Regions from separate parts of the Homo sapiens genome. Here region 1 is linked to region 2. The links come from fine-mapping of genetic effects on gene expression. A gene starts in region 2. The other region holds a variant in brackets. All regions are shown on one strand. Distances are from middle to middle.

Region 1 (8,350 bases), 170 kb before region 2:
AGCAGGTAGATTTTAAGTTGTATATATAATTGATACATAGCAGCTGACATATAGACATGCTTTAATCAAATTGACTAAATATTTATAAACATGACATTAAAGACTTAATTATTCTGAATTTGAAAGCTGCTTGACTTTCAAGAAGATTGCCCAACAAAATATTCTTTCAAACAGAAAATTTTCCTACTTCATTTTAAATACAATTTAATTCTGAATTTCTTTGCTGCTTTTCAGCAACAAACATACTATGTAATCCAAAGTGTAATTTAATTTTAGCAGCTGGTCATTCACACATAAAATTTTCAAATGTGATATCAGGAAAGAAAACGTAATTATTTTCTGAAGACTTATTTTTTCTTTGGAATACATGATAATACCATTTTGTTGAGTGTTCACTCATATTATTAATTTTGTACCATTACCCAATTCTACATATTTACATTATTGTATTTCATGAATTAAACTACTGTGTTCATTTCAGATATTAATGTTTTTATCTAGTTTTCCACTAGAATCTTAATAGTTACCCATTAACAGGGAAAAACAATATGGGTCATATATATCTGACAGACGTCTTTATATTACTTTTGTGTTCACTAAAGTAATATAGATAAAGACATCTCTCAGAGACACTGTAAAGATATGAAGCCAGTACTACTGTATATTATTACTTTTCTCCATTCAAAGCCCTAGATGGAGTTTAATTTCCATTAGATTCTCAGCTGTGCCAGTCACTAGCTGTGTGACTGAGAGCAAGTTTCTTAAACTGTCTGTATCCCAGTTCCCTCATCTGTAAAATGACAATGCTGTAGTAATAACACCTACCTCATAAGTTTATTGGGAAGATTAATTGGGTCAATATATGTAAAGCCCTTCTTGGACATAAATGTTAGCAGTTACTACCAGTACCATCAATATCACCACTACCACCAGTACTATTATGACAATACAACTTGTTAGAGTATCTAAAGAGCTTACATGATATGGTGGAAGATTCTGGGCTTTGGAATAAATCAGACTTATGTTAGAACCTTCACTCTGCTCCTTCGAACCTATGCAAACTTAGGCAAATTATTCATAGCATCTAAGGCTCATTTCTTCATCTGTAAAACTGGGATGGTAATAACTACTTCCCAAAGTTTTTGTGAGAATTAAGAAGAATGCATGAAAACTACTAAGTTGAGTAAGATGGACATAATAGCACTCAATTATAATTAGAGTGATTAAACTTCTAGGTCTCTCCAGAGTTTTTCTTGTTTAAAAATTAAAAAGTACCATATTTTTTCCTGATTAAAATTGTATGTGCTCATTTAAAACTTCCCATTTATATATTTTTCATTAAAACTTGTTTCTAGATATAAAATACAAGTGATAAAGTAAAATTACTAATAATTTCAACATCCAGAACTAATTACTTTAATTGGTATGTACGATCTTTTTTTTTTCTCTATGTATGCCTTTTCTTCTTCTACGCATTTATGTATTTTTGAAGAGAGGTGGTAATTTAGGGTCACTAATGTCTAACGTTATGAAGTCTTAATATTAATAATTATGAATTTCTGTGACCTAAAGTGAGAGGAAACATTTCTGAATCTTTCCTCCCCACCATTTCTGATGTGGAAGGAAATGGGAATGGCCTTGAATAGTGAGCTATGTGCAGATACTCTCCTTGTTGCTCTGTCCCTCATGTTGTGCTCTCTGGCAGGAATCAGTCCCTCTTTAGGCACACGTGATGCCCAGTAAGTGCTCCTGTGAGTGATGTGAGTCCAGCACTGGCTCCTGCGTATAGCCTGAGACACATTCTCCTTCCCGCTACTTCTACTTCCAAAGCAAAGCTTTATTTCTCATGCTTGGTATCCTTCAAGACTTTCTTGTATAATACAAACTATTTTACCCTCACTTCCTCCACACATTTCAAGGTGTCATTTTTTTTTCTAAATATCCCAAATTTACAAAATTTTACATAACACACTCAACATATAAGTACTGAAACCAAATTTCTAGTTATCACAGAAAATATACACAGGTATTTAAATTATGTATATATTGTTTTATATATAATAAATAAATTTAGGCAAATATATTTCATATGATATAAATATAATATATAATATATATTATATAATTACATATTAATATAGGAAAAAACCATAATACAGCCCTCTATCAGAGACACAAATAAAGACGTGAAACCAGTACTACTGTATATTATTATTTTCCCCATTCAAATGCCCTTGATGGAATTTAATTTCCATTAGAATTCCCAGCTGTGCCAGCAACCAGCTGTGTGATATATATATATAATAAATATAATATATATATTTAACTAAATTTAATAGTATTGAGATATTTTTCTTTTGCACCATATTAGACATTAGTTTACTTTAGAGAATTGGGAGAAAGCAATTCTAGTCAATAGCATTGTACTATGTGATGCTATTTTTCCCTGAAAAGCTTAAAATTTTTTCACAAATACCTCTTCATGATTGCACATTTTTATGAATCTCATTTAAACATTATTCAGAAACAGGTTTTCCTTGTGAGCAAGATCTTCAATTGAATTCAGCAAGGTTGCTCTGTAGTTTTCCTTTTATGATTTATGATGAGATTATTTGTTTTCTGTCATATGGATCTGGGTTTATAATTTATAATTGCTATAAACAACAGTAGCATGACTATTTTGAGCTTATTGAGACAGGTATAACACGCTATTATAATACAGAAATCAGAATTATAAAGAGTTACAGGCAACTCATGAAAAAGCCCACACTGTCCAAAACAAAAAGCAAAACAAAACAAATCAGAACTGGCTGTCATTCTCTGATCCATTGAAATTCTTAATCCTCAGAAATGTAATGTAAAATCTACCAGTCCTATAACTTGAAGAACAAAGTGGAAATGAGAATAGCTTTGGTGAACACACAAGCTCATACAAAACTGTGCTGTTTCTTTATTCTTTGATTTCTATAATTGTGAATATTTTATTTGCACTTAAATCTTTAGCATAAAATATTTAATTCCACTGGTATTAGGCATATACTCTATCTACTTCTTTGCAGTAGGGGAACACAAAATTACCACATGATTTGTACCATCCATTATTTCAAACAGGTTTCTGTTAATTGATAGAGAAAAAGAAGACAGAGAATGGTGGGGGCCAGGGGCCAGGGGCGGGGGCACGGTATGAGCTAAGAGATTTTGCTTTGAACCACAGGGGAAGTAGGAATAGGGTAATGGTTACTTTAAGCGAGAACAAAAGTGGCAACCTGACGGGAAAAACATATAGAGAAAGAGAA[T/C]ATGGTAACATGCAAAGAGAAATAAACATAAACAACTGATTTTTTTTTTTCATTTATTTTCCATTAGAACTTGGTGGGTGTGGGTGGTCAACTGCAAAATAATCAAAGGGCTCAAATTCACAGCAGTAGATAATCCATAACACAGGGTTAGGCAACATTAGGTGGGTCCAGGAAACCTTCACAGCTGAAGACCCAGAGAAGGGAACTGGGCCGGAAACACAGCATCCGGGAACAAGCTGCAAGGAAGTGATTGCCAAAGCCAACCGCCTGTGCAACCACAACAAGGGAATCAACAGGCGTATTCGGGCGTATTCGGCTTGAGACGTGGCCTGCAAGGTATTTGCGGCTTTCATATGACATTTACTCACAGAATAATTGTGTTCTCTTCTAGTAGGCAAGAATATGAGATCGAAGCCTTGTCTGCTGTTTCAGACATTCTCAGTGTGCTGGGCTGTTAGGGGTGTTGGCTTTAGGAGGGGAGGTTGAAGTAGAATGGGCAGATGTTTTGGCAAAATTCATATTCCATGACTATCCAGGGAATGTGCGAAAGTGTTTTTATGTATAACACTATGGAGCAGTAGCACAGCCACTCGTTCAAAAAACAAGGTTTGAACACCCCATTGTCTGCTCTGGAGTTATCCACATACCACACACGAACAGCAAAGAGGCGGCGACTCTGTGGCCCCAGTGCTACCACTTTCTCTTCCTGTGTCTACGTGGAATATTGATAAAACATCACAAAACTTTCTCGTTGAGCCTGAACACAGCCTCAGAATCTTGCCCACACAGCAGGCCAGGATGCCATTAGGATTTACACATACCTGAGGTCACTGGTGTGGCATGTTCATGCATTCATTCATTAAACACTTATTGACATCTCCCACTAGTGCTAGAGATGCAATGATGAGACCGAGGAAGAACACATCCCTGCCCAATGAGAGAGGAACCTCAGAAGAGGCCGCACAGTGCGATGCCGTTGGAATTTCGGCAGTGTGATGCGTTGCTATGGAAGCACACTCAATACATTTGAGTGGAAATGGGAACTCTTGGTGTCATACATTTTTATAGCTTTTCTTTGAATTTTAAGACACATACTAGAATCTATACCTTCTAATAAAGTAAGCCTGGCAATAACAGTTTTCTCTTAACTTCTGTACACACAAACCTTTTTAAGCTCTTTCTTGATCAGGTCCAGGCAGATAATAGAAGCAAGCAAACGCCTGAACAGAGTTGTTGGCAATTAATAAATAAGGGTAATAATAATAGGAATAGCTTACATGTATCCTTCCATTTACTCATTCAGCTAATATTGTGGGGTGCTTACTGTTCATATGGGATCTAACTAGGGATAATGCAAGGGACGAAACAGGTGAAAATGGACAAAACTCCTCATTCTTCAGGGGCTTGCATTCTAATAGAGGAATATAAATAATAGATAAAATTTACTGTTTCTTAGAGGACGAAAAGGACTAAGAGTTTACGTCTTATCATAAGCGTGTTGTATGTATACTAAAAATTCTGAATGATGACAAAGCCCACTTCGGTGGTGGCTACCATCAAGTGTTTGAACTCAGGTTAATGGGACCCAGGAAGAAATGGAGGCTTTTACATTTTATGTTATACCCTTTTGTATTGCATGGGTTTATTTTATTTTAAAAATAACATGCATATATTATTTTATGATTAGGCAATCTAGCTTAAATTTGAAAGAGAACATAAATAGAAAATACACATTCTTTCAGATTCAATTATTAGATTGCCCAATGGGATATAAAGCTGTTGGAGATTTCCCTTTGATTCTCTTTTTTGAAAGCAACAAGCTTCCTGGCCAGGAATACTAGAGTAGTTTATATTTTGAAAAAATAAACCAGAGTACTCTTTCACTAGAAAATTATTCTTCTGGAATTGAAGAATTTGTGAAATATTTTAAAAGCTTGTATTTAATGCTATATATTCTCAAAAAATATGGGCAAATATAATTTTATAAATAGAAAAATGTCATACATTTTTGAAATGTTCAAAAGTATAATCAATTAGTAATTTTTATTAACTAGACAAAATGTGCTTACATTACATCTAACTAATCATATTTTTTCCTTATAAAACAGGCAGTAAAAATATTGAAACATATAATCAATTAACACAACAGGAAATGTAACAGGATATAGAGTACAAATTATAATGTGTAATAAAACATCATACAATGATATTTTCATGACTAAATCAATTTATTATTAAATATTTAAATATCAACTTATTCAAATGTAAAGTGCATGTTTAAACATTTAGGGTGACATACCTTTGGTATTACTTTTCTTTAAGTCTTTCAGTGCTTGAACAAATGTCAGCTGGCTTTCAGTGAGAGGCCAACTGTTATACAACACCGAACACTGTATAATATACTTGTAATTCTGTGAAATAAAATGCAGTGTTTAAAAATGATAAGAACATACATGGTATGTGCCTAATGTCATTTATTATGCTAGGTACATGATAAATGCAGAATTTTCCAGATCAGACAGTCATAATTTAGTTAAATCATGCTGGATGTTCTCCAAAACTCTGTAACGCTACACTTTATAAAAGTTTAATAGCCCCACATCCCCACCAACACCTGCCACTACCCAACTTTATAATTTTTGTGAGTGCAGTGGGTATAAAGTGAAATCTCACTGCTATTGTATTTTGCATTTTTAAGATTACTATAAAGTTTGAGTATTTTTTCAAAGCTGTTGGCCTTTAGGGTTTTCTCTTCTTTGTGATCATGACACAGAAAAAAATAGTCTCCTACATTATCTATTATTATATTTAGGGATTAAAATTTTACAATTAAATGTTCACTATATCTGGAATTCACCTTTATGTATGATGTTAGCTAGTGATCTAGTTTTATTTCTCTCCATGGAGATGTAATTTTCCTAGTACAACCTACTCAATAGTCCATCTTTTCTTCATTGGTTTATGGTGTTGCCTCTATTCTATATGAAATTTTCATAAAAATATGGATCTGTTTCTATCTTACTTTCTCTTATTGTTCCATTTACCTATGTATGCATTAATTAATACTATTTTTACTGCTATATCTTTTTGTCTTTGGAAATACTAAGACACACTTTGCTCTTTTTTCCCCAAGTTCCGTTAGCTATTTGTGAATTGCTATTCATTCCTATGAATTTTAAAGTATCTTTAGAAAATTTCAGAAAAATACAGTGGGAATTTTGATTGGGATTGCATTGAATTTAAAGGCAGATTGAGGATAACATATCTTTATACTGTTATGCCATCTTGCTGAAAAGCATGAAATGCTTCTCTATTTATTCAAGTCATCTGTGTCCATCAGTGGATTGGGTTACTTTCTGTAGCCTTTATTCAAGTGTTAAGCTTTTCTATGTGGAAAACTGATATATTTTTGGTTAATTCCTGGGTGTTTTCTGATTTTGTTGCTGCTATTATTAAAGGCATCATATTCTGATGTCTAATGCATAGTGCCGGTGTAGAGGAACACTACTGATTTTTGTTTAAGTTGTAGTAGCAGAACAGCATTGTGATTAAGGGCATGACCTCATGAGCTAGAGCTGTCTGGGTTGAAGTCCTGCTTTAGCACAAACCAGCTGTTTGGCCTTGAGGAAGTCACTTAAGCTTCCTGTCCTCCAGGTTCCTTGACTGTGAAATACAGATAATAAGAATACTTACTTCAAGAGGCTGAGGTGGGTGGGTCACCTGAGGTCAGGGGTTTGAGACCAGCCTGGCCAACATGGTAGAGAACCCCTTTGTCTACTAAAAATACAAAAAATATTAGCCGGGTGTGGGGGCATGTGCCTATAATCCCAGCTACTCCAGAGGCTGAGACGAGAGAATCACTTGAACCCCGTAGGTGGAGATTGCAGTGAGCTGAGATCACGCCATTGCCTGGACAATGGAGTGAGACTCTGTCTCAAAAAAGAAAAAGAAAAAAGTTGATGGGGAGAATTCAAGATCTATGTGTGAAGCACATAGTATCAGGTGCATAGTAAGTAATAAGTAAGTCAATATATTAGTTATTACTATTAATGTCTTTGGCAATCTTGCCAAAATCTCTTAGTTCTAAAGTTTGTTTATTCTGTTGTTTTTTCTTGGGCATATGATTATATTATCTGTGAGTAATTCAATGATTATTTAGAATAATCTTTTAATTATTTTGTTCTTTGTATCATTGTGGCTTTCCATTATCATAATAGTTCAGTATCATTAAATACTAACAATTATAGCAAGCATTCTTTTCTTATTCCAATTTTAATAGGAACACACTTACACTTCCCACATTAGTATAATGGTTTTGTATATGAGATTTGGCCATTAAGTGTAAAATTTTTGGCATGTAACATTTATGATGAAGAAGTTCTCTCCTATGCCTAGTTTGCTAAGAGCACATTTTAGAAATCCATAAATAGGTGTTAAACTTTGTCAAATGTTTCAGGATTATATGATTGTTCTCATCTAGTGTATTACTGTAGTGACTAATACTGATAGATTTTCCAATGGTAAAAGATTTCTGAATTTCTGAGAAGAATTCTGTCTGATTGCTTAATACACTGCTAGAATTGGATATCTATTATGTTATTTGCAATTTATCACCTATGTTTATAAATACATTTTATTCCTTTTTGTGTTACCTTTATCTGGTTTTGAAATCAGGATTACATTAATTTCTTAAAAAGGATTGAAAAGTTATATTGTTTGTTTTCCGTAAGAAATTACTTTTTAAAAGTCTATTGGACCTATCCTATAAAGCCAAAAGGGGGCCTATGGTTTTTTGGAAAGGGAAGACTTAGAGGACTTTGAATTATCGTTTCAATTTTATTATTCTTTACTGTTTTATTCAGATTTTCTATTTTCTTGTGAATCAACTCTGCGATTTCTCCTCTCCCCCACCCTCAGGAAGTTATGTGTTTCCCCCTCACCCCCAGGTTTAATTTAGTTTAATTTAATTTAATTTAATTTAATTTAATTTAATTTAATTTTACTGAGACAGAGCCTCGCTCTGTCGCCCAGCCTGGAATGCAGTGGTACAATCT
Region 2 (8,350 bases):
TGTCCCTATCTCAAGCTTCCCATTAAGGTTCCAAGTATTTTAGTGTATAAAGTGTATGCATTAATACTGTCAATACTTAAACTGCACGACTTCTTTTGTCTCTGTTATCTTGTCTATGATATACACAAAGAATTATATTTAGTACTTCCAAGAAGATCAAATTTTTGTCTTGATATCACTACAAATCCCTCCAGCGGCATCTAATTGGTGAATGAATCTTTGTAGCACTTATTAGTTTTCAAATCAATTAGATTGATCAATTAATTTAATTTGTTTATAATTGCTAATTGTTATTAGTTTATATTACAGATTGCATATCTGTGTCTCCTCTCCCAAAATACACATCTTAAAATTTTAATTCTCAATGGAATGGTATTAGGACATGGGGCCCTTGGGAGGTAATTAGGTTATGAGGGTGGGACCTCATGATGGGATTATTGTCCTCATAAGAAAAGTAACAGAACTAACTAGCCTTCTCTCTCTAGCATGTGAGGATACAAAAAGACAGATGTCTGTGAATTAAGTAGAGCAGCCATCCCCAACCTTTTTGGCACCAGGGACCAGTTTTGTGGAAGACAATTTTTCCATGGATGGAGAGGGGGATGCATTAGATTCTTGTAAAGATCACACAACCTAGATCCCTTGTATGCACAGTTTACAATAGGATTTGCGCTCCTATGAGAATTTAACGCCTCTGCTAATCTGACAGGATGAGGAGCTCAGGGGGAAATGTTGACTCCCCTGCCTCTCACCTCCTGCTGCACAGCCCAGGTCCTTACAGGCCATGGACTGGTACTGGTCCGCAGCCCCAGCGGGTGGGGACCCTTGACGTAGACAGCCTTCCCCGAACCTGACCATGCTGGCACCCTGCTTGTTGACTTCTAGCCTCCAGAACTGTGAGAAACAAATGTTTGTTGTTTAACCTATCCAATCTATGGTATTCTGTTACAGCAGCTCAAACTAAGATACTGGCAATGAGTTATAATCTGTGACAGTTGTGATGTTATGTTAAAGTTATCTTACGTTAAAAATTGTTATGTTAAAAGATGATAACAGAACAATCAGTTAAACCATGGTTTTAAACATTTTACTGTAACAAAATCCCCTCACTTATTATGGACCCAGTGAAGTTAAAAAATATATCTGATAGAATCATGGAAGTTTAGAACTGGAGGAAAATATAAAGCAGGGAAGGGAGAACAGGACATGCTGGGGTAAGAGCAATTTCAATTAAAGGACCCTCCCTTTAAAGAAGTGAAAACTAAATGTCAGAATAGAAAATGACTTGTCCGTTGTCAAAAAATTGATGCCAGAGTGAACCCTAGAATAGTGATTTCATACTGGCAGATACAGAGAACTAGGAAATAGATAAAATAGAAATTGTTTAATCTAATGTAAAAACTTACAGCTTAGTTACCTGGAATAGTTTTTCTTGGTGATTCAAAGTTATATTTACTTATGAATATGAACATAGATGATTCTACCGTAATCAGTTGTAACATCTCAGTTTTTGAACTTTGCCAATAGCAGATCAAATAGGAAAGAGAAGGAGAATTGGGCTTCGATCAAATTCAGAAGGAATGAAAACCAAGGTGGATAACAAAACTATGAGCTCATTTAGTAAGCACATGGTGACTTTTTTTATGTGCTAGTTGACATATGAGGCAAAAGCCAAACATGACACTTATTCCCAGTCTGACACATAATTTTAGGGCAAAAGAGAGATGTCAGAGATGGCATCTCTAGGAGTGTAAGATTCTATTGCATAGCCGTTTTCAAGGCTCTGAAGACTTTTTCTTTTATTTCCATATCCAGGAACATGTTAGAGTTGGTCGCATTTATTGGATATGTAAACACAAGGTGTGGTAAAATGACATAAAAACTTACTCTAAATCTCCCGGTGTATTTTAAATAACAATCATACTAGAGCCTTGCTAGACTTTGATCCCTACGCCTCATACTGAGTAACACTTTGTCCTACATCTATGGGTTAGCTTAGGTTCTGTGATTAGTTCTTCAGTTAAACTTAGAGGATAGACTTGATTTATAATGAACTTAACATCCAATTATTTAATGTTGCAGAAAAATCTAATGATTTGGTGTTTGATGCTCAATAGTCTCTAACAAATCTTAGCTTTTTAAAAATAACTCTTTGCCCTTCCTCTTCTATTTTCATAAATGTATGCATACATTTTTATTGATATAATTCAGATATTTTCTAGAAAAAAAACATGTTAGACATTTATTACCATCTCAAAAAGAAATAGACAGTCTTAGTAAGAAGAGAGTTTGCATCTTACCAGTGGGGATCTAGTTTCCATTGTGTAATACAACCATCAAAGGATCAGGGCAAGTAATGTGTTTTATGGTGTCTGGTTTGATAAGTTTCTTTATGGGAGTTAACAGTCACATCTCTTTCAGGATATAAACTCATTAAAGTCCAAGATTTTCCCGAAGCTCCTAAAGAGTTGTGAGCCTTCAATGTGCATTACTTGTAACCATCAGTGACTTAGTTATTTGTGTGTGTGTGTGTGTGTGTGTGTGTGTGTGTGTGTGTGCGCATGGGGGAGGGGTGTACTCAAAATTCTTTTGCAATCCTTTAATATCTCCTAGTTAAGAGAGTCATTCATTCATTCACTAAACACTTTTGAGTGCCTACTATGTATGATCTTGGAACTATCTAAGTACTAAGAATTCAACAGTATGTAAAATAGAAAAGGAAAATCCCTGCCTTCCCTATTGGGAAGACAAATGAAAAAAAAAAATGTAGTTTTTAAAAAGTGAAATATATAGCATGTTAAATGAGCAAAAAAATAAAAGTCAATAAAAAAATAAAACAGTGAAGGAAGACAGGGAGCTTTGTTTTGTTTTGTTTTATTTTGGCAGAGAAGTAGAGGTTGTAACTTTAAATCAGGTGGCCAAAGAAGCTAACAGGAGAAAATGACATTTAGGTAAACTCCTGAAGGAAGGGAGAGGGAAAACCATATGGATATTTGAGCAGAAAAGCTTTCCAATAGGGGAAACAGCAAGTGCAAAGGCCCTGCGGTGGGAACAATCCTGAGATGACTCAGGGAGTGGAGAGAAGGCTAGTGGAAGGTAACTTTAGAGAAGTAATACAGGCCTGATTCTGAAGGGCGTCCTCGGCCTTGGACCTAGAGGAATGGAAGCCATTAGACAACGCTGAAAAGACCTGACTTTGGTACACAGAAGTAAAGCAATCCTATTAAAATTACATATGTAATATTTATATAAAATTATATATGTAATATTACTTATATATGTAATATCTAAAATTTAAGCTAGTAAAAGGAATGGATTATCTGCCGGGTAACTGGAAACCTGCTTATGAGAGAGGTTAGAACTAAGGGACTAGAGATTCACAGACATGGGAATGAGTCTGGGAGAAGAATTCACAAAGAAAAAGAGTTTAAATCCTAGGGATCAGTGAATCATAGGGATCAGTCCAATGTGGAATTCTTCAGCCAGGGAAGGAAATGGAGAAACAGGCATCAAGGATGTAAGAATTCAATTTGAAATGATTGATTGCATCGCCCTCCCCATCAGGCAGAGCATGAAGAACATGAATGATCCCACTGAAGCAGGGCGGGCAGCTGGGATTCTCTCACAGTGGGAATGAACATTAGAAATGGTGTAAGTTCAAACAGCCCCAATCCTATGCTGTGGATAACTGGATATCCCTAGGGAAACAGACCACAGAAAATAATAATCATGGGGAAGTACATCCTAAGACACAACACCTAACACCAGCCCAGGACAAAGGCACCATAAAAATTCCATGAGCGAGGGTCTGTTTACTTTCTCAGAGTAAATGTTAGTAACATGAACTATACATTTATAATGTTTTAAGGTTTAGAAGCCACTTTACGTCTGACTATATCTGATTAAAGATCGTAGTCGTTGGACTGGGCAGATGCAAACTAGAAAATCACCATTAAGGTGAAATGTGTCCATGTCTGTCTGTCACTCGCTGTCTGTATCATTTCCGGGGCCATGAAGATGTGGCTTTAACCAGAAGTATTTGAGATATGCCTCTTTCTTAGGAAAGCTATGGCCTTTCTAACTGCCTGAGAGGGCTATGAAGAAGAGGAGGGGTGGCAGATTCACCCATGGGAGCTGAACACCCAAAGCAAGAAAATCAGGGGCTCTGGGAAAGGAAGTGAGTCAAGACAAGCAAGAGAGAAGGATGAGAGCGAGCACCTCCAGGATCTGGTTTACCAGAGAAGACAAGCTGCGAGGAGGCCACTAAACTTCTGCCCTGGCACAGTTTGCTGCAGGGAGGCAGCCCCAGAACTAGTGGTGAGGTCGAGGGGCTAGGCCAGGGGAGGGACGGACAGGCAGAGGTCCCTTACTCTTTCGATTTATCCGATCCGTGCGCCGAGTTGATACGATGCACCTCTTTCTTTTTGGTTTGTTTGGAGGCCATGGCAGAAGCCGATCTATGTAGGGCTGAGCTCTGAGCAAAGAGCCTGCGGGCGCGCTCGGCTCCGCGTCTGCGTTGCCAGGAGACGGCGTCCCGCGTCCAGCGCCCGGAGAGCGGGGGCGGGGCCCTGGGGGCGGGCTCTGCGGCCTGTGGCTGCAGAGGGACGCAAGAGCATAAACTGAAATCCCACATCCCCGTGGAGGAACTTGGAGTTGGTGTCTGGGGAGAAATCGAGGTTCTGGGGCACGGGTTTGGCATTAGGATTACTGGGCAGCCCTGATTAATTGGAGTTCTGCAGGACCTACACTGCCTGGCTTTGCCCTTCGGAACCATAGACATATATCGACTCTTGAATATCCAACTATTTGAACGTAGATGTTATCCTAGTACCACCCCAGTTATTCTCTTGGCTAAATATAACAAGTACCTTCAATAATTACTAAGGAGACATTACAGACACGCTGAAATTGTCAATGGCTTGAAAACCTGGGGTCCAGAAATTAACACAGTGGGTGTAAGGAAGGCAAAATAATGACACCTTGAGTCGCTGAGGGCTAGGTGATGATATCTGTAATAAAACCAATAAGGTGTCTTGTTGTTCGAATGAAAGAGTGAGTCCAAGTCATGGGCTCAGGTGGTCCTTTGCAGACTTTCCAGAAAAGGTCCAGGGGCCAGATGACACAGACAGAACCAAGTAAAATGAAACTTATTAGGGCGCAGGCTTAAGGCTCAGTCATCAGTGGTGATTTGTTAGTTATCTTGCCTTGGGCTAGTTTTTCCCTTTGAGTCTCAGTTTACTCACTTATAAATAGGAGATGCCTATTACTCACTTATAAATAGGAGTTATACCTAACTCACAGTTCTGTTTTGAGGATAAGATGCAAAGCGCAGCAAATAGGAGCCACTCTTTCAGAGATGACAGACCACCTGGTTTCGAGGAGCAGCAGACAGCGTGAATGAATGAAGTTGGCCAGGTAAATACAGAGTAGTGGATACTATGCTTAACTGAGACATGCTTAGACTGCAAGAGCTTGCAAATTTATCAAAACAAAACAAAATATTGTGTTGGTTCAATATAACCTCACTTCAGAGATATCTGACACACAGCCCTTAGGCCTAGGACCACTACTACTGGTTGGTGTCTTTCATGAGCCTAGAAATAGTTAAGTATCTTTAAATAAAAGAAATCCCCTCCACTCATGGGACTGGGCACATGCTCACAGTTCCACCTGTGCAGGCAAGAGGCAGCTTCCTGCAGAGAAAATCTTTCAACTTCTCTGACAAATGAATGCTCAGGGCTCTCCACTCAGCATAGCCTATGGTTTGTCAGACTATCCCAATCTTATTACTATTGGATTACTACTGGGGGTTACCTAGATGACAGACAGCCCCTTCGTTGTATTTCTATATGCAAAATAAATAAATTCCAAGTCAGCAGTGTTAATATTATGACTACAAGACTGCCCTGCAAACATCTCCTATATATGTAAAGACAATGAACACATCATGAAGATTCTGCTTTGTTTATACCATAATTCAAATTTCCAGAGAACTCTCTTGAATGAAAGTAGAGGACTAAATGGTGAGAAAAATTATTTACTACCAAATTTTGTCAGAGTAATCAAATTTATAGCTATAAGTATATACAAAGACTCTTGGCTGAAAACAGCACAACTTTAAGCAGCCAACCCCACAGAGAGGTGAGTTTCTTCTTGAACAAGGGCTATCCTGCAGCCATTGTTAATGGCTGCAAGATGCCAAAAGAATTAGGGAAGATAAGCCTTAGAAATCAAAAGATCTACATCCCACCGGTATTTTATGGACAAATAACTCCAGGCGAAGACAAGCAAAATGTCTTGCCAAAAGTTGCTGGGTTATTTATTGATGGAATTTGGACTAAACACATTAAAGTCAGCATTGCCAGTTTAAGCCAAACATATCACTACTCCACTCAGAGCTTGCTTTTTAAACATCTATTAAATTAGGATAAAGTAAGGGGGTTGTCACCAGAATGGAATAAGATAATCATAAAAGATGTGACGAGTATAAGTTGCCTATTAATTCCTACGCCAGTGTTCTTTCTCCTTTATTATATTAAGAGTGCAACATGCATAAATGGAATTTCTCTTCTTTCTGGAGCTAAGGTTCTGGTCAGGCTGTAATTATAAGAGCAAATCTGTTCCTCTCTAAGATAGTTCTAGCTACAAAGCTTAACATGATATTTATTGTGGCAGTGCAAAAAAGACAATAGGTCCTACTGCTGTTTTTATTTTTCTTATAACTGTTGTCAATGTCACTTTGGAATAATAATAATAATAGCTGTGATTTATTGAGTACCTACTACATGCAAGGTTTAGGGAAGGGTGCTAACTCCTTTAGAGATAAACTTGAATTTAAATCCTGACTCTTGTTGGGTAATTATGGGTGAGTTATTTAACTTCCATTTTCTTTATTTGTGGAAAGGGAAGAATAATACCTCAAATATGCTTGACTCATCCCAAGCATTCAGAGAATTATAGCTAATGTTATTATTCCACAGGTAAAGAACTGAAATGCAGACAGGAAATGGGACTTGCCTGACATGGAGCAGGTGGTAGGTGGCAGAGGAAGATTGGCCACTCCATAACCTGTGCTCTCTCCAATTCTCTGGACTAACTGTCCATACAGATGATTGCCCTGGGACTGAGCTTAGGGATTTCCAAACTCTTGCTATTTAACAACTGTCAAAGACTGAGAAACAGGGCTTATATTTTATTCAAGCTACCCAGAATAGGGCCTCTCTCTAATCTATACTTCCTTTTCGGGGAAGAGATATTTGGCTTCAGGCAGCAGTAGCGCCTGCTCCCTAGGGAAGTGGTTAGAGGTACCCACTTCCCCATATCAGCAGAAACAAAACAGGCAGGAGTCTCTCTGCTTGAGGATCTGCCTAAATAGGGAAGTGAGAATTGGCAACCACTTCTCCCTCCACCAATGGGAATCCTAGATGGAGGGAACTGGGTGGGAGATGGCAGGGGTGGGCAGAGTGGCAGCATTTCTGTTTCTTAAATCCATAACTCCATCTTCAGACACTTGATTCCACAGCCATAGGGAATTGTATATATTTTGCTGCTCAGCTACCTCTTTGCAATTAGGTCAATTATAAAATTACTTGGAATTTAACCAGCCAAATGAGAAAGTATGCATTCTACATGTTCTGTGTAAGGTTGAATTTAACTGTCACTTCAAGTTCTGTTCTTTTCACATTTCCATGGAAATTTACACCCTTCTCCTTTATTTCCCACAGAACTTTATTTGTTCATCTTTTAAAATTCCTATAATATTCTGTCTTGTTTTTATTAATACTTATGCCTTGTTTTTTCTCCTTTACTAGACTGTAGGGTCACTCAAAGCAAAAACTCCTCTTCTACCAAATTCATTCACACTTTTGAAGCTCCTAAACCCTTAATAATAAGAGCTTACATTTGTTGAGCACTTGCTATGTGCTTGACCCTCTTCTAAGCTATTTTTCTGTATTAATTCACTTAATCCTTACAAACACCCTAGGGATTTGCTATTATAATCTCTCTTTTATAAATAGGAACATAGGCAAAGAGTGGCTAAATTAAGTTAGTAAGTGATCAGGCATGATTCAAACTCATGGCTCTAGACCCATGCTCTTTATAACCACATTATTCTGCCTCTGACACCTTCAGTGATCACAACCCTATGAAGTATGAAACTCTGCCCATTTTATAGCGAAGAAAATGAGCTTTAGAAAGGCAAAGCAACTTGCCCAAAGTCCAAAGCACAGGGGGAATGGAGTCAAAATGCATAGGTGAACACTTTGGTTTCAGAGTGCAGGCTCCTAAACTCTCTGCTACATACACACTGCCTACTTCAGAGTTCAAAACATATTTACTTCAGATCATT

Evidence for each region. PIP is the estimated chance that this variant, and not a neighbour inherited with it, causes the effect. A credible set is the group of variants that fine-mapping cannot tell apart.
Region 1: its variant is the best candidate, but not a certain one, in a credible set for the expression of ADGB in testis (GTEx, PIP 0.61).

What each region holds. Positions count from the first base shown.
Region 1 is chr6:146,766,377-146,774,726 of GRCh38, reverse strand. ADGB (androglobin) reads right to left here. Exons shown (of 36, transcript NM_024694.4): 29 at 5,596-5,707. It overlaps LOC105378040 (a long non-coding RNA gene), which reads left to right and starts at 3,574. Exons shown (of 4, transcript XR_943093.2): 1 at 3,574-3,632. The variant T/C (reference allele first, on the strand shown) is at 3,297.
Region 2 is chr6:146,595,135-146,603,484 of GRCh38, reverse strand. ADGB (androglobin) reads right to left here and starts at 4,513. Exons shown (of 36, transcript NM_024694.4): 1 at 4,371-4,513. The coding sequence starts at 4,444. It overlaps ADGB-DT (ADGB divergent transcript), which reads left to right and starts at 4,554. Exons shown (of 3, transcript NR_125860.1): 1 at 4,554-4,652; 2 at 5,314-5,415; 3 at 6,981-8,350. RefSeq lists a silencer at 4,418-4,712.